2 separate regions of the Homo sapiens genome follow, and region 1 is linked to region 2. The links come from fine-mapping of genetic effects on gene expression. A gene starts in region 2. The other region holds a variant in brackets. All regions are shown on one strand. Distances are from middle to middle.

Region 1 (9,020 bases), 45 kb after region 2:
AGAGAGATCGAGAGACAAGGTGTCTTGTAAGGTCTGGGCTTTCTGAAAAGAAAAAAAAAATAGAGACAGGATCTCGCTTTGTCACCCAGGCTGCAGTGCAGTGGCACAATCAGCTCACTGCCACCTTAAACTCCTGGGCTCAAGCAATCCTCCACCTTTAGCCTACCAAGTAGCTGAGACTACAGAAATGCACCACCACAACTGGCTAATTTTTTTTTTTTTTTTTTTTTTTTTTTTTTTGTAGAGTTGGGGTCTTGCTATGTTGCCAAGGCTGGTCTCAAGTGATCCTCCTGCTTTGGCCTTCCAAAGTGTTGAGATTACATAAGCGTGAGACATTGCATCCAGCCCTTATATGTGTGGGGTTTTTTTTAGCTTATTTTTTTCAGTCTTCTAGCTCTTCTGCAATTAACCACTATTAACAGTTTCTTTCCGAAATGTTTGATAATTTACTTGTATTTAATTGCTTGTGAAGCTATCTATATGTTTTTCCATGTGATAATTTACTGTTTATATTGCCCCCCATGTTATTTATATCAGATATATTCTCAGTTTGGCTGCTTTCAATATTAATATTTGTTTTATAACATTCTCTTTAAAAATTATGTATACATATTTCTCTTTTATAATATCATCCTTTGTTTCCAGTACTCAGAAGAGTATTTTTTTGTCTAGTGCATCTTTTTATGTTAGTTCATTTTTTTCTGGTATTTTATGACCTATCAAGGATGTACTGTATGGGATGATATGAAGTAAAGACCTAAATTAATCTTTCTTTCTTTCTTTCTTTCTTTTTTTTAATTTGACAGAGTCTTGTTCTGTCACCCAGGCTGGAGTGCAATGGCACAATTTCGGCTCACTGCAACCTCTGCCTCCTACGTTCAAGTGATTCTCTGCCTCAGCCTCCTGAGTAGCTGGGATTACAGGAGCTCACCACCACGCCTGGCTAATTTTTGTATTTTTTAGTAGAGATGGGGTTTTGCCATGTTCTCCAGGCTGGTCTGGAACTCCTGACCGCAAGTGATCCACCCGCCTCAGCCTCCCAAAGTGCTGCATTTACAGGCAAGAGCCACCGTGCTCGGCCTAATCATTTATTTTCTATGTTGATATCCTGTTGCCCAAAAAATACGGAACAATTCAGCCCATTTGCGGTAGTTTGTCACAAGTTAAAAGTTTATCCTTTAAATATACAAGGAACATCATTCTGTACCACTGATAACTTTCATTATTTGTAAAAGTATATACTCTTTGTAAAAATTATCTAAAACTTTGAATAGTTAACTCTTTTTTATAGAACCTAAGTCTAATTCAATGAGTTCATTCATTATTTAACATATTCTTTGAATTTATTCAAAAGAATTTCACTGTATTTCAATTTTTAATAATTACAGGAAGAATAGTTTTACAATAGAAGAAAGTTTTTTTTAAAATTCATGTTAATTCAATTATCTGTATGTCTTTTTTGGTCCCTGGATATTCCAAAACTATATATATATATATATATATATATATATATATATATATATATATATATATATATATATATTTTTTTTTTTTTTTTTTTTGAGACAGAGTTTCGCTCTTGTTGCCCAGACTGGAGTGCAATGGCATGATCTTGGCTCACCACAGCCTCCACCTCCCAGGTTCAAGCCATTCTCCTGCCTCAGCCTCCCGAGTAGCTGGGATTGCAGGCATGCACCACCACGCCTGGCTAATTTTGTATTTTTAGTAGAAATGGGGTTTCTCCATGTTGGTCAAGCTGGTCTCGAACTCCCAACCTCAGGCAATCCATCTGCCACGGCCTCCCAAAGGGCTGGGATTACAGGCATGAGCCACTGCGCCCGGCCTCTAAAAAGATTTTTGTTTGTTTTGGAAGTATAAAAATGTTAATATTATTCTTGGGGGGAGAATTTGGGAGTAATTATTTTATTATTTCCTAGTTACAGTTTTTAATTTTTTATAGGAACATGAATTACTAGCTCAATTTAAAAAATGTGAAGGGAAAACAATGTTTTTACTGTTCTCACTTAAATTTGGATATGTGTTCCAAGATACTACACAAGAATGAAAATCCTTATTAAATCTATCTCTAATGATTAACCAAAAGTGGACCACTCTGCTTATCTTGGACATTGAACTTTTGTAGATTTTTCAAAGTTATTTAAGTGCAAAACTTAATTAGTTAACATTTGCTTGCTAAATAGAAATGATACAGCATATTTTCTCCTGAATCATGTAGATGAGTCATTCTTTTCTATTGAATTATCTCTGTGCAATCCATGATTTACACTGCAGCACACCCACACTGAGTCATTAAGAAGAGATGTTTTGAGACCATTAAGAGGAGATTTGGGATCAATCTTTTTACATAGGACCAGCAGAGCTAAGTTTAGAATTCAGGTTTCCTGACTCCTTTATTTATGTTTTGCAGTGTTTCATTGTACAGCCTTCCTATCCCTATTAAAAATATCAAGGCATTCGTCCCATCTTTTGATGCTTTTATGATTCTCAGTGATTCCAGAAGATTACAGATCATGGTTCTGCAATGCTTCTGTCAGTCCTTTTAGAACCCATTTTGGGCTGCAGGAACTTTCATATTCATTCATTTCATTTTTTACATTCATTAATGTAAAAAAGAAAGGCTCAGAAGCCCCTGCCTTCCCCCACCCCAAGAATAACCACTGTGAATAGTTTATTTGAATCAACGTTTATATTGTTTGAATCTGTTAAGTGTAAATACATAATTTTTTAAATCAAAATGGAATCACACTATTCTACCACTTGCTTTTTTAAAATAGACTTTATTTCTTAGAGCAGTTTTAGGTTCACAGCAAAATTGAACAGAAAGTATAGAGACTTCACATAATGCCCTGCCCCCATTATGTATGGCCTCCCTCATCATCAGTTTATCACCAGCCCCCACCAGAGTGGTACATTTGTGTCAACTGATGAACCTACATTGACATAACACTATCACACAAAGCCCATAGTTTACACTAAGGTTCACTATTGGTTTTCTCTATTCTATGAGTTTGGACAAATTTATAATGACATCTATTCACAACTATAGTTATCATACAGAATAATTTCACTGCCCTAAAAATGCTCTGAGCTCCACCTATTCATTCCTCCCTCCCTGCTAACCCCTGGCAACCTCTGATCTTTTTACTGTCTCCCTAGTTTTGACTTTTCCAGAATGCCGTCTAGTTGGAATCATACAGTATGTAGCCTTTTCAGGTTGACTTCTTTCACTTAATAATATGCATGTAAGTTTCCTACACATCTTTTCATGGCTCAATAGTTCATTTCTTTTTAGCACTGAATAATATTCCATTGCCTGGTATATTATGACTATTGATGTTTAATATGATGATTGATACAGTTGGATTATTATCTACCATGTTTGTGGTGACTATTTCTCTTTGTTGTCTTTGTTCTCTTTTCCTATTTTTTCTTCCACTCTTTTTTTCACTTTTGTGGTTTAGTTGACTGTTTTATATGATTACATTTTCTCTTCTTTCTTAGCATATCAGTTATACTTCCTCTTTTTCTTTTTTACATTTTTAGCAGTTGCCCTAGAGGTTTTTTGTTTGTTTGTTTGTTTTTGGTTTTCTTTTTGAGACGGAGTCTAGCTCTGTCGCCAGGCTGGAGTGCAGTGGCACCGTCTCGGCTCATTGCAACCTCCACCTTCCGGGTTCAAGTGATTCTCCAGCCTCCTGAGTAGCTGGATTATAGGCATGTGCCGCCACGCCCAGGTAATTTTTGTATTTTTAGTAGAGACGGGGTTTCACCATGTTAGCCAGGATCGTCTCTAACTCCTGACCTTGTGATTTGCCCACCTCAGCCTCCCAAAGTGCCCAGGATCCCAGCCATAGAGTTTTAAATACACATTTACAATGAATCCAAGTCCACTTTCAAAGAACACTATGCACTTTACAGGTAGTGCGAGTACCTTATAATAACAAAATAATCCTAATTCTCCCTCCCATCCCTTATGTCTTTGCTGTCATTCATTTTTGTTATACATAAGCATTTAAAAATATACACAGAAATATGCATGATTGAATACATTGTTGCTATTATTTTGAGTGAACTGCTATTTTTTAGGTCAGTTAGAATTAAATAATTTATTTCACCTTATTTCTTCTCCAGTGCTCTTCCTTTCTTTATGTAAATCCAAATTTCTGACCTATATCATTTTCCTTCTCTCTTAAGCAGGGGTCCCCAGCACCTGGGCCACAAACTGGT[G/A]CTGGTCCAAGGCCTGTTAGGGCTGCACAGCAGGTGGTGAGCAGCAGGCTTCTTAGCTCCACCTCCTGTCAGATCAGCAGAGGCATGTGATTCTCATAGGAGTGTGAGCCCTATTGTGAAGTGTGCATGTGAGGGATCTAGGTTGCACACCCTTATGAGATCTAATGCCTGATGATCTGAGGTGGAACAGTTTCATCCTGAAACCATTCCCCACAAAATTGGTCTCTGGTGCCAAAAAGGTTGGGGACCACTCCTCTATAGGAATTCTTTTAACATTTCTTGCAAGGCAGGTCTACTGGCAACAAATTCCCTCAGTCTTTGTTTGTGTGAGAATGTATTTATGTATTTATTATTATTTTATATATATATATAGAGAGAGAGAGAGACAGAGAGAGAGAGAGAGAGAGAGAGAGAGAGTGTCTCACTATGCTGCCCAGGCTGGACTCAAACTCTTGGATCAAGCAATCCCTCCACCTCAGCCTCCTGAATAGCTGGGACTATAGGCACGCACCACTGTGCCTGGCTTCTCTTTACTTTTAAAGAATAATTTTGTGGGTACAGAATGCTGGCTGTTGGTGGCTTTTTTCTCTCACCACTGTAAATATTTCATTCCATTCTCTTCTTGCTTGCATGCTTGCTGAGGAAAAGTTGGACATAATTTTCATCTTTTCTCCTCTACAAGTAAGGTCTTTTTCCCCGGGCTTCATTCAGAATTTTTTATCTTTGATTTCCTGCAACTTATATATGCATGCCTGGTTGTAGGGCTTTTGTTTGTTTGTTTGGCATTTGTTCTACTTGGTGTTCTCTCAACTTCTGTGATCTGTGATTTGGTGTCTGAAATTAGTATGAGGGAAATTCTCTTTCATTATTGCTTCAAATATTTATTCTGTTCCTTTCTCTGGTTATTCTCTTCCTGCTATTTCCATTACACATATGTTATACCCTTTGTAGTTGTCCCATAGTTCTTGGAGATTCTGTTTATATAGTCTTACTTATTTTTGCAGTTTTGGCAGTTATTTTCAAGTTCAAATATTCTGTTTTCAGCCTTGTTCAGTCTACCAAAAAGCCCATCAAAGGCATTCTTTATTTCTATTACAGTGTTTTTGATCTCTAGTATTTATTTCTTTTTAGTTCTTTCTTAGAATTTAAACTCTCTGCTTACATCGACCCATTTGTTCTTGTATGCTGTCTACTTTATCCATTAGAGCCCTTGGCATTGTGATCATAGTTGTTTTAAATTTCTGGTCTGATAATTCCAACATCCCAGTCATATCTGAGTTTGGTTCTGAGGCTTGCTCTCTGTCTCTTTAAAGCCTTTTTTTTTTCTTTTTTTTTTTTTGCCTTTTAGTATGCCTGGCAATGTTTTCTTCATAGCTGGACAGGATATACGGAGTAAAAGGAAGTGCTGTAACTAGACCTTTAGTAGTGTGGTATACAGTGGGGGAGGGGGAGAGGAAGAGTTCTATAGTTCTGTGAAGAGGTCTCAGTCTTTTAGTAAACCTGTGTCTCTAGACTGAATTTCACAAGTGCTTCTCAGTTCCTATCTGCCCCGATCCCTGTTAGGTGGGACGTGATGGCTAGAGTGGGCTGCAGCTGGGTATTTTCAGTTTTCATGTGGAAGGCTAGAAGAGACTGGAGTTCTTATTTCCCTTCTCCGGCATCATTTAGGCTCCTATAAATCAAGAGCATTAGGCTCTATTTAAACAGTTTTTCCCAAGGGCAGACTTTGTTTAGAAGAGAAGAATAGAGTGTCCAGGTATATTTCAAATGGTTACTTTTCCTATCCCCTCTGCCAGGGACATGGAAGCAGGAGGAGATTTTTCTCTAATAAAAAGAGAACAATATTTGAGAACCTCTTTGAATTCCTATGGGTAAACTCATGAAAGTGTGGAGATCATCCCCTCCTTATGGCTGAGTCACTCTGGAATTTTTCTCTCTCAAACTTATCTACACTGGGCCTCCGGCAATTCAATTACAGTTCAGGTTTTCCTGCCCTAGCCCTGGTTCCTGCTGAGATTTCTTTTCTTTTTTCTTTTTTTTTTTTTTTTTTTTTTTGAGACAGTGTCTCTGTTGCCCAGGCTGGAGTGCAGTGGCGTGATCTCAAGTCACTGCAAGCTCCGCTTCCCGGGTTCACGCCATTCTCCTGCCTCAGCATCTCCGAGTAGCTGGGACTACAGGCGCCCGGCACCACGCCCGGCCAATTTTTTGTATTTTTAGTAGAGACAGGGTTTCACTGTGGTCTCGATCTCCTGACCTCGTGATCCGCCCGCCTCGGCCTCCCAAAGTGCTGGGATTACAAGCGTGAGCCACCGCGCCCGGCCCCTGCTGAGATTTCTGCGCCAGTAAATTGTGATTTTTGATATTCTCTTGTTTATCTCTTCAGTTTGCCCTGTAACCTTATCTCTCTACAGATCTAAGAAGAGTTATTGATTTTTCTATTTGTTCAGATTTTTAGTTATTGTTAGGAAAGATTCATGACTTCCTGGCTCCTTACTTGCTTTTCTCATTCAATATTCCCTATGAGTACATATTTTATACTTTAAGCAACTTGTTTTGATGAACATTTAGATTCTCCACCCTCTCTTTTTTTGATTACTTAGAACGTTTAGGCCAGACACGATGGCTCATGCCTGTAATCCCAGCAGTTTGGGAGGCCGAGGCGAATGGATCGCTTGAGCCCAGGAGTTTGAGGCTCTACAAAAAAATTAAAAAAAGAAAATTAGGTGTTAATCCTTGACCTTATATTTCTCAAAGTTTTACCAAGAGTTCCCCCGGACTCCGAGTCCTACCACCAGTGCCAAGAGAAGTATGCAGCCTAAAGGTGCACCCTGCCCCAAGTGAGATCTCTTAGTTCCACAGCTGACCTTTCCTGGCTCTTCTGGTGAGTGGTATGGAAAATGATGGAGAAACTGCCATATGTTTTCATAATGGTCAGACCAATTTACATTTCCATCAACAGTATACTAGGGTTCCCTTTTCTCCACACCCTTGCCAGCACTTATCTTGTTGTTTTTTTTTTTTTTTTGTAATAGCCATCCTAATAGGTATGAGGTGGTATCTAACTGTGGTTTTGATTTGTGTTTTCCAGATGACTTGTGAAGTTGATTCAGTTGTCATATACCTGTTGGCCATTTATATGTCTTCTTTGGAAAAGTGTCTGTTCAAGTCCTTTGCCCACTTTTTAATTTGTTAGTGTATGTTTGCTATTGAGTTGTATGAGTTCCTTATAGTATATTGTGGATATTAACTCTTCATCAGTTATATGGTCTGCAAATATTTTCTCCCACACTGAATGCTGCCTTTTCATTTTTTTTATGTGTATACTTGACTTTTAAAATCAGTAACAAGGTCCATACAATTCACATTTGGCTGATATGCCTCTTGATTCTCTTGTAATTTGTAAGTTCCTTTGACTCCTTTCCTTCTTTTAATTTATTTATTAAAAAATGGAATCATTTGCACTATAGAATCTCCCACATTCTGGATTTTGACAATTGCATTCCAATGGAGTCCTTTAGCATGTTCCTGTGTTTCTTATAATCCGGTAGTTAGATCTAGAATTTGACCAGATTTAAGGCCAATTTTTTTTAGCTAGGATACTGCATGGGTGGTTATGTTTTAGCTAGGATACCGCATGGGTGGTTCATGATATCATGAAAAAAGCATGTTCTTAAAGCAATTTAAGTGACAGTACAAAAGGTTGGGTCAGGTGGGGCACGGTAGCTCATGCCTGCAATCCCAGCCCTTTGGGAGGCCAAGGCAGAAGGATTGTTGAAGCCTGGAGTTTGAGACCAGCCTGGGCAACATAGTGAGACCCCGTCCCTACAGAAAACATTTTTTTAATTAGCTGGGCTTGTTGGCATGTGCCTGTAGTCCCAGCTACTCAGGAAGCTGAGGCAGGAAGATCGCTTGAACCCATGAGGTCAAGGCTGCAATGAATCATGATGGCAACACTGCACTCTAGCTCAGGCAACAGACCAAGACCCTGTCTCAAAAAACAAAAAACAATAACAAAAAAAGAAAAGGTTGGGTCGATGACAGTTTCTAGCGACTGATGCCACCACTCTGTTTACAGAATCACCCCTCTCCTCTGGCCCTGATGTTTTATCATGATATCATATTTACAATGCCTGGCAAAGGCTTCATTCCCATTTGGCATACTACCTCTCAGGCAAATAGAACTTTTGAAAGCCTGTATTATGTATATAACATATAGGCTCACACTGGATAAGCTATTTTATAACCTGACTTCTTCAAAGAAAGTTTACATCATGTTTAAACCATGTTTTAGATTCTATATTTTTAATTAAAAATCTAAGGAAGAAGGATATTTCACATTTCTATAAACTCTAAGATCTTGCAGCAGAAGCGAAACTGCACATTTAGGGGTGCCTGCCCCTCTACTGATGCTGCCCTTTGTGGGTCATATGTCCTTAGGAAAATGAAAGACTGTGCACTCTTGATTTGTTGGCCAGCTCTGTTGACATCTTTCAGTGGTTCCTTTTATGTATGGCCACTCCTACAGAGGCCTCTTGTACTTTGGGAACTGGTGAGTCTCCCTGTCCCTAGGGCTTTTTAGTCACATGTCCATCCACTGTTTCAATGTAACATGCATCTAGGCAAGGTTAACGATTAAATGGTTGGGATGAAAGGTCATCCTTTACGGAGAACATCAGAATGGTAGATAATTCCTGTTCCACTTTCTTTGATGAAACAAGTAAAGAAGAAACAACACAATCATATTAATAGAAGAGTCTTCGTTCCAGACGCAGTCC
Region 2 (9,020 bases):
GGGAAAGCTTTTTAGAGTTGAGCTAATAAAATATTATAATTTTGCTACGCTAATGAAATAATGGATCTAGGCAATGGTAATTAATGGCTGTTAACATCTATAATAGACACCAGATATTCACGAATGTTCTATTCACCTACTGAAGTATTTTGCTCCCTCATCCCTAATTTGAATCTGATCAACCAACTACTCATTCACAGGAAATAGACGGGACAAAGGAACATGTTAAATATCACACAGTTATGCAGTCAGCAAAATCTAAACTGTGCATAACCATAGGACAAATGACTAGAGTTTCCTCAGCAACTAGAAGAGGGGGAAAGGGAGGAGTGTCTAAATCTATAGTCTCTTGATAGATTTAAACAAACCTAAGAAACATGAACCAATTGTGATGTACAGAACTTCTTTGGGTTTAATTCAAACAAACTGTAAAAAAAGTTTTGAGACAAACTTGGACTCTGATTGAAAGAGAAAAGATACATAAACAATGCACAGGTACCAGTTAAGACATAAACCAGTCTTTATAGAAGGCTCCTACTAATAAAACACTCAACTGTTCTATGGCAGGGCAAGCCATCAGACATGTTCCTTCTTTAAGGCCTCGGTTTCTCCATCTATACAATGAGGGAGCTAGACTAGATGCTCTGTAAAATTCCTTTCTCCAGCTGGGCATGGTGGCTCATGCCTGTAATCCTGGCACTTTGGGAGGCCGAGGTGGGCAGATCACCTGAGGTGAGGAGTTTGGATCAGCCTGGCCAACATGGTGAAACCCTGTCTCTACTAAAAATACAAAAAATTAGCCAGATATGGTGGCACGCGCCTAGTCCCAGCTACTTGGGAGGCTGAGGCAGGAGAATCGCTTGAACTCAGGAGACGGAGGTTGCAGTCAGCCGAGATCACACCACTGCACTCCAGCCTGGCCAACAGAGCAAGACTCTGTCTCAAAAAAAAAAAAAAAAAAAATCCTTTCTCCTCAGTCAACCTGTGCTTCTACTGATGATCCAAATACCTGACTCACTACGAGCAAATTACTTACCTAGTTACTCCACCAAGAATAACTGCTCCAGCCACTGTTCCACTGCAGACCAGGAGCCATCGGCCCACCACCCGCTCAGCAGCCTTTGAGGGAAGGGACACTGTACCCCTTCCAGATTGCAAAGCTACTTCAGAGATGGTGCTGTATTGCCCTGGCCTCAAAGGGCGCCTGATGCAATCACACTAAAGATCAAGATAGACAAATTACAACTGGAGAAACAGGGAATGGCTGCTACCCACACTCAACCCCATTCTGATTAGCGCGAAGTACCATAGCATCCCCACAGCCATGTCTTGTTAAGTCATCATCTCTTATCTGGATTACTGCATCAGCCTTCCAACTGGTTTTCCAATTGGTTTTCAAATCTAGCCTCACTCAAACCTATCCCCAACTACATGAATCTTCTCATCTCTGAATACTTCCCTCAGACTTCACTCTACTTACAGATATGGAATATTTTCTTTCACCTCTAGGTCTTTCAACATTTCTCTCTGGCTTGTACACTTCCTTTCCCCTGATTAATAATACCTACTGCAGATCTCCGCTTACATGTCACCTCCTCTGGGATGTATTCCCAGGCTCTTCAAGGTCTGCAATAGGTCACTCCCACAGCACACTGGAAAGCCCTTAATACACTGTAATGTACAGTCAAGCATCACTTAACAACAGGGGCACATGTTCTGTGAAATGCATTCTTAAGCAATTTCATCATTGTGTGAACCTCATAGAATGTACTTACACAAATCTAAAGGCTGGGTGTAGTGATTCACACCTGTAATCCCAGCACTTTGGGAGGCAGAGGCAGGGAGATCACTTGGGTCAGGAATTCAAGACCAGCCTGGCCAAAATGGTGAAACCCCATCTTTACCAAAAATACAAAAATTAGCTGGGCATGGTGGTGTATGCTTGTAATCCCAGCTATTTGAGAGGCTGAGGTGGCAGGATCACTTGAACCTGGGAGGCAGAGGTTGCAGTGAGCCAAGGTCTCACCACTGCACTCCAGCCTAGGCGATGAAGTGAGACTCCATCTCTCAAAAAAAAAAGTACTTACAGAAATCTAGATGGTATCGCCTACTACACCCCTGAGCTATATGGTATGACTTATTGCTCTTAGGCTATAAATCTGTATGGCATATTATGTACCGAATACTGTAACACAATGGTATTTGTTTATCTAAACATAGAAAAATTACAGTAAAAATATGGTATAAAAGATTTAAAAATGGGGCCAGGTGCAACGGCTCAAGCCTATAATCCCAAGGCTTTGGGAGGCCAAGGTGAGAGGATCACTTGAGGCCAGTAGTTCGAGACCAGCCTGGGCAATGTAGCGAGACCCCCTATCTCTATTTTTTCAAAAATTAGGCACAGTGGCACACACTTGTAGTCTTAGCTACTTAAGTGACTGAGGTAAGAGGATGCTTGAGGCCAGGATTTCCAAGCTGGAGGCTGCAGTGAGTTATAATCATGCCACAGCACTCCAGCCTGGGTGACAAAGTAAAACGCTGTCTCTAAAAAAGAAATTTAGAGAAAAAGATTTTTTTTTAAAAAAAAGGTACACTTGGAAAGGCAGCTCCATTATAATCTTATGGGACCATGACTGTATCTGTGGCCTGTTGTTGACCAAAATGTTGTTATGCAGCACATCACTCTACCTTCAGGTTCATCTGTTTGTATCTCCCACTAAACTATGAGCTTTGGGGTGGCAGTGTCCGGTCAGTCTTGCTCTCTCCCTTCTGCTAGCTTTGTTTCTAACACTGTTCCTTTATATAATGAGACCATGATAAGGATTTCGCAAATGAATAAACTGACTTCCTCCAGGGCAGGAGTCTTGTAATATTTATCTTTCTTTTTCCAGTTCCTAATATATAATAACCACTCAATAATTACTAGTTAAGCAAATGCATGCCCTCTTCTTACTATATCCCTGTGAGTCCAAAGATCCATGCTCGGTTTCCTATTTCTGATTAACTGAGTCACCTTTAGAAAAGTAACTTTAAGCCTCAATTTCCTTCTCTGTAGGATGCAGTAATACTTCCTCATCTGACTACTTGGAACTTTTTAAGCAAAAATAAACTATATGGGTAAAAATTACTCAGCTTTTACCATGTGCTAAAGGCCTGATGTATATTAAAGAATGTAATCCTCATAACAAACCTTAAAGTAGGTATTGTTATCCCCATTTTACAGATAAGGAAACTGAAGAACAGAAAGTTTAATTAACTTGGCCAATACCACACAGCAGGTCAATGTTCCAGATCTGAACCTAGGGGCTCTGATCTGAACCTATGCGTTGTGAGTGCACTGTAAGGAGCTCCGGAAACGTGATGTGGGGCTCTACATTATCTTTATCCCGGCCCTTTCACTCCATCCCCGCTCCCGCGACTCGGAGTCCGCTGCAGTGCGGTACCTGTGCTCTAGGCGCTGCCCTAGGAGCCAGGAGCGGCAGATACTGCCTCCCCTTCAAGGCCCTCAACGGCGGAAAGAGCAATCGCTGCATACTGATGACAGGGAACAGCCACCTCTTCCACAACCCAGGGCTCTGTGGTCTCCCTCCTCCGCCAAGGAAAAGAGAAGCACTTCCGGGTCGGGCAGCGGGAGCCCCGCCTTCTCTGGGGACCGGAGCGAACAGAAGTGCGCCTGCGTTGCGACTCCGCTTTCGCGGGGGCTGCTGGGGCGTAGGTGTCGGGGACGCGCGCACGGGCGCGCGCAGCTGTTGACGCGCTTCTTAGCTGGTGCGCGCCGGAGCCCAAATTCCAAGTGGAAACTGCAGGCGCACGAGGGAGGAACGCGTGGAGCATGAAAAGGCAGGGGGCCTCCTCTGAGCGAAAACGAGCGCGGATACCGTCCGGGAAGGCCGGTGCGGAAGGTGGCGGGGGAGGGGACGGTCGGCCGAAGGCTCCCCGGGGCGGGCCGGCGGGAGTCGTAGTCAGTGGTGATTTCTTCTGGAGTCGTTTCCTCAGCTCCTTCCAGCCCCTTGGGCGGCACCTTCTATCTTTGAGGCGTTAAAGGTGTGGAAACGGAGGGCGTGACGAGGGGCAGGTAGCGAGAATGGCTCAGCTGTGGAGCCAAGGTTCGAGTCCCGGGGTCCCCTCATAACGGCCCTGCGACCTTGTGCAAGTTGGTTAACTTCAGCTTCACGTTTTTTCCGTCGCCACACGAGGATGCCAGTACCGCCCGCACCAGCAGCCAGTACTCCGCTGGGATAGTTAATTGTCGAGCGCGGAGCCCAGTTCCTAACCTGCAGTTACCTGTAGCTGCCACGGCGGGGACGGGGCTTGGTCCCCAAAGTCACGCAGCTACCAAGTGGCCGAGCTTGTGGCTGCTCCAAGACCCGAGTTCTTCCTGAGTGCCAGGGTAGCATGGCATGGCAGGTGCCAGAGAATTTGGCAAGTCCCTCTTCCTCCGTGAAGAGGAACCTTCCTAAAAGTTATCAAGAATCCTCAAAGATTTTTTCTTTATGTGGATTACATCTATCTATTTTGACTGTATTAGAAATTAAAACAAATTTTTTTTTGGGAGGCCGAGGGGGACAGATCATCTGAGCTCAGGAGTTCGAGACCAGCCTGGCCAGCATGGTGAAACCCCGTCTCTACTAAAAATACAAAAATTAGCTGGGCATGGTGGCAGGCGCCTGTAATACCAGTTACTCGGGAGGCTGAGGCAGGAGAATCACTTGAACCCGGGAGGCGGAGGTTGCAGTAAGCCGAGATCGCGCCACTGCACTCCACCCTGGGCGACAGAGCGAGACTCCGTCTCAAAAAAATAAAAATAAAATTAAAACAAAATTTTAAAATATTGATTAGAAAATAACCATAGTAAACCCATTACATATTGACATAATATTTTTTTGAAAAAGAAATATTCCTAAACAACAACAACAAAAAAAGCAAAAGAGTGGAAATATATTTTTGCAAGTTTCTTCAGTATATCTTAATGGAAGACAGCTGGATTCTCATGCCCGCTGCTTCATTCAGTCTAACATGTCAAGTAGCCTCTTGAAAACGCCTCTTCACGGAGGTTGCAGTAAGCCGAGATCGCGCCAATGCACTCCATCTTGGGTGACAGAGTGAGACTCTGCCTCAAAAAAGAAAACGCCTCTCACTTGTGAGAGAATTAAAGTGAAAAAGTCAAATAAAGTGTTAGAATTATTAAGAAAACGGTTGTAGCCCTGCAGACTCTGAAAAGTCTCAGAGGCTCCCAAAGCTCTCTGGACTACTACACTTTGAGAACTGCTGCTGCTTCTCCTTTGATCCTATAACTTTGTTGCTTGGGACAACTGCCTTGCTCTGCCTTCTGTCATAGCCTTTTTTATACATCTCTCCATCTTCTCCTGCCTAGGGTCCTTTCTTGTGTGAGGCAAATAGTCCCCCGGCAGCATCAGCATCGGCCAGTGCCACTGATCTGACAGCTGGTCTGGTAGCTACCAGGAAACTCATGGAGTTAATAATGCAGAGCTGTTGGTTAAGAGCATAGATTGACACTTAACCCTTTCACAGTTTGGGACTGATAGTATTTTTTTTTTTTTTTTTTTTTTGAGACGGAGTCTGGCTCTTGTCGCCCAGGCTGGAGTGCAGTGGCCTGATCTCAGCTCACTGCAACCTCCACCTCCCAGGTTCAAGCAATTCTCCTGCCTCAGCCTCCTGAATAGCTGGGATTACAGGCGCCCGCCACCACGCCCGGCTAATTTATATACTTTTAGTAGAGATGGGGTTTCGCCATGTTGGCCAGGCTGGTCTCAAAATCCTGACCTCAGATCCGCCCACCTTGGCCTCCCAAAGTACTGGGATTACAGGCGTGAGCCACCGCGCCGGACAGGGACTGATAGTCTTAAATAAGTAAGGCAATTGCAGTTTGATGTTAGCAGATGATAGGTTTTTGTTTTATTTGTTTTTCAAAGTAAAAATTGCTTTTTTAAATTATAAAAGCAATATTGGGTAGAAAAAATAAAGCAATAAAGAAAAGTAAAAAGAAGAAAATAAAAATAATTTCAAATCACACCCCACCAGAAGTGACCATTACCAGTATGTGAGGAACATTCTAGTAAGTGTCATTACATGAAGTGTGCATTGTTTCGTTCATTTTTTTAAATTATGTGCTCCCGGAAAAAAACTCAAAACTCTGTTTACATCACACTTTGTAATATAAATACATTAATTTTGTTGTAATTATTCAGCTTTTAGTAAATATTTGATTATTGTGTACCATGGTAGATACTGTGCTTGGTGTGGGTGATGATAAAGATTTCTCACATAAAGACCTTACTTAGGAGGCCAGACGTGGTGGCTCATGCCTATAATCCCAGCACTTTGGGAGGCCGAGGCTGGCAGATCGCTTGAGTGCAGGAGTTTGAGACCAGCATGGGCAACATGGCGAAACCCCATCTCTACAAAAAATACAAAATTAACCAGGTGTTGTGGCACATACCTGTAGTCCCAGCTACTGAGGAGGCTGAGGCACAAGAATTGCTTGAGCCTGGGAGGCGGAGGTTGCAGTGAGCCGAGATCATGCCACTGCACTCTAGCCTGGGCGACAGAGCAAGACTCTGTATCAAAAAAAAAAAAAAAAAAAAAAAAACAAACTTAGGAACTCTAAGTCAAGTAGAAGTGATCAGATATTTATCTGCATAAATAATAAAAGGTAGAAAGTAATTCATATTTTAAGAAGGAACAATTGGGGTTTCATAACTCATGAAGAGTTAAATGAGTTCAAAAGAGGGACATAAAATTTTCTACTTTGGGAGACAGAAAAAATCATGGAAATGTTCCTTGAAAAATTTTATTCAGAGATGAAGCCAGAAGGAACTCTGGGTTGAGGAGAAGGCATTGGGGAGCCAGCGGTAGGGACTGGAGAGATCTGGAAGCATAAGAAGGAATGAGACAGAGTATCACTCTGTCACCCAGGCTGGAGTGCAGTAGCACAATCTTGGCTCACTGCAACCTCCACCTCCTGGGTTCAAGCGATTCTCATGCCTCAGCCTCCCAAGTAGCTGGGATTACAGGCGCATGCCACGATGCCTGGCTAATTTTTGTATTTTTAGTAGAGACAGGGTTTTACCATGTTGGCCAGGCTGATCTCCAATTCCTGACCTCATGTGATCCACCCACCTCGGCCTCCCAAAGTGCTGGGATTACAGGCATGAGCCATCACACCCGGCCAGATAACTAATACTTTTTGATTCTTGAGACTATATACTTTACATGAATTATCTAATTTAATCCTCACTACTCTGAGGTACATACTAAAATCTACCTTGTTTTATAGAAAACTTAAGTAACTAATCTAGGATCTCACACTAAATAGTTGGTGGGACATGGATTTGAAGTCTGTCCTGCTTTTAAACCTATATTCCTTATAAAGAAGTTTAAATATATTCTGCAGGCATTGAGAAGCATTGTAAGAATCTCAGCTGGAATGTGATGATGAGGTCTATGTTTTAGGAAGATTAATTTGGCATTCGATAGACATTTTCCTCAGTATAATTTTTTATACATCTGTCTGTGTACCTATTTCAGTCTATAGGCATCAATTCAATAATTAATGTGATATTTTATTGCATTCATGGGCCCTAGTGTACTTATCTATTACCTGTTATTGGACATTTGCATTTTGGCAGCAGAATGTAAACCCTTTGTGGTAAATTGGTCTGGATGGATAGAACCTTTATGAACTCTTACCATTCTCCATGTATTTTAGGAGCAGCAAATGGATTTCTCATGGAAGTTTGTGTTGATTCAGTGGAATCAGCTGTGAATGCAGAAAGAGGAGGTAAGAGAAATCAGATAGTGAATGACCGTTGGCTACCCTTTTAAGAGTCTGAAAATTAATCCTGTGTGCTTATCTCAGAAGCCCTTGTGATCTCTAAGCATCCCTCATAATGCTTTCAGAAACAACCAATTAGAAACCCTACTGGAAAATTATGATCTAGTCTCTCCCTCTCCCCAAGTGGGTCACATTTTAAGTCAAGTGTCGACAATAGTACTTACTCAATGACTTGATTTTTTATTGAACTTAGCAAAATTTTAATTTTTTTAAACCATTAACTTAAAGATGACTTCAGAGACTTCATCATGAGGAATTTTATCTTTTTTACTTTTGAACATTATCTATTTTTCCCTCAAAGTTTCTGTTGTACTCTGAACCTGTTTTAATGGGAAGCACAGACATTTCCATCATCTCAGGTTCAGAAAAATTAAAAAAAAATTTTATTATGGAAAAATAAACATATACAAAAGTAGAGCAAATAGGATAATGAAGCCCCATGTATGCATCACTCATCTTCACCCATTTTCAACACATGGCCAGTTTTTCATTTATTTCAGGGGTCAATAAACTTTTTCTGTGAAGAGCTGCATAGTATATATATTTTCAGCCTTGCTGGACACATTTGATCTTTATCACTTATTTTATTTTTAAATCTTTTGAAAATGTAAACATCAGCCGGGTGCAGTGGCTTACACCTGTAATCCCAGTAATTGGAGAGGCTGAGGCTGCCAGATCACTTGAGCTCATGAGTTCGACACCAGCCCAGGCAACATGGCAAAACCCTGTCTCAACAAAAAATAGAAAAATTAGCCAAGCGTGGTGGTGAGCACCTGTAGTCCCAGCTACTTGGGAGGCTAAGGTGGGAGGATCACTTGAGTCCAGGAGGCAGAGGCTGAAGTGAGCCAGTCACACCACTGCACTCTAGCCTGGGTGACACAGCCAGATCTTGTCTAAAAAAAAAAAAAAAGTTAAAAAAATCCTTCTTACTTTGGCAATAGAAAAGAATGAAGTACTGATACATGCTATAATATAGATGAATCTTGAAATATTATTCTAAGTGAAAGAAACCAGTGGAAGAAAATACAACATATGATTCCATTTATATATATCCAAAATAGGTAAGTTTATGTAGACAGAAAGTAGATTAATAGTTGCTTAGGGCTGAGAGGCATGAGAAGGGTAGGTGACTGCTAAAGGGTGTAGGGTTGTTTTGGGGATGATG

Which allele goes with the higher level. Alleles are on the strand shown, and positions count from the first base shown. SD is a standard deviation of normalised expression in the study named.
In carriers of allele G in region 1, the expression in subcutaneous fat of the gene that starts at base 3,718 in region 2 tends to be higher than with A alone (small effect, 0.38 SD a copy in TwinsUK).

The links.
Region 1: its variant is fine-mapped to the expression of CUTC in subcutaneous fat (TwinsUK, PIP 0.95).

The regions. Positions count from the first base shown.
Region 1 is chr10:99,773,818-99,782,837 of GRCh38, forward strand. ABCC2 (ATP binding cassette subfamily C member 2) reads left to right here and starts at 8,823. Exons shown (of 32, transcript NM_000392.5): 1 at 8,823-9,020. The variant G/A (reference allele first, on the strand shown) is at 4,246.
Region 2 is chr10:99,728,517-99,737,536 of GRCh38, forward strand. It overlaps CUTC (cutC copper transporter), which reads left to right and starts at 3,718. Exons shown (of 9, transcript NM_015960.3): 1 at 3,718-3,893; 2 at 7,730-7,801. The coding sequence starts at 3,833. COX15 (cytochrome c oxidase assembly factor COX15) reads right to left here and starts at 3,611. Exons shown (of 9, transcript NM_078470.6): 1 at 3,444-3,611; 2 at 1,037-1,218. The coding sequence starts at 3,533. RefSeq lists an enhancer at 3,313-3,532.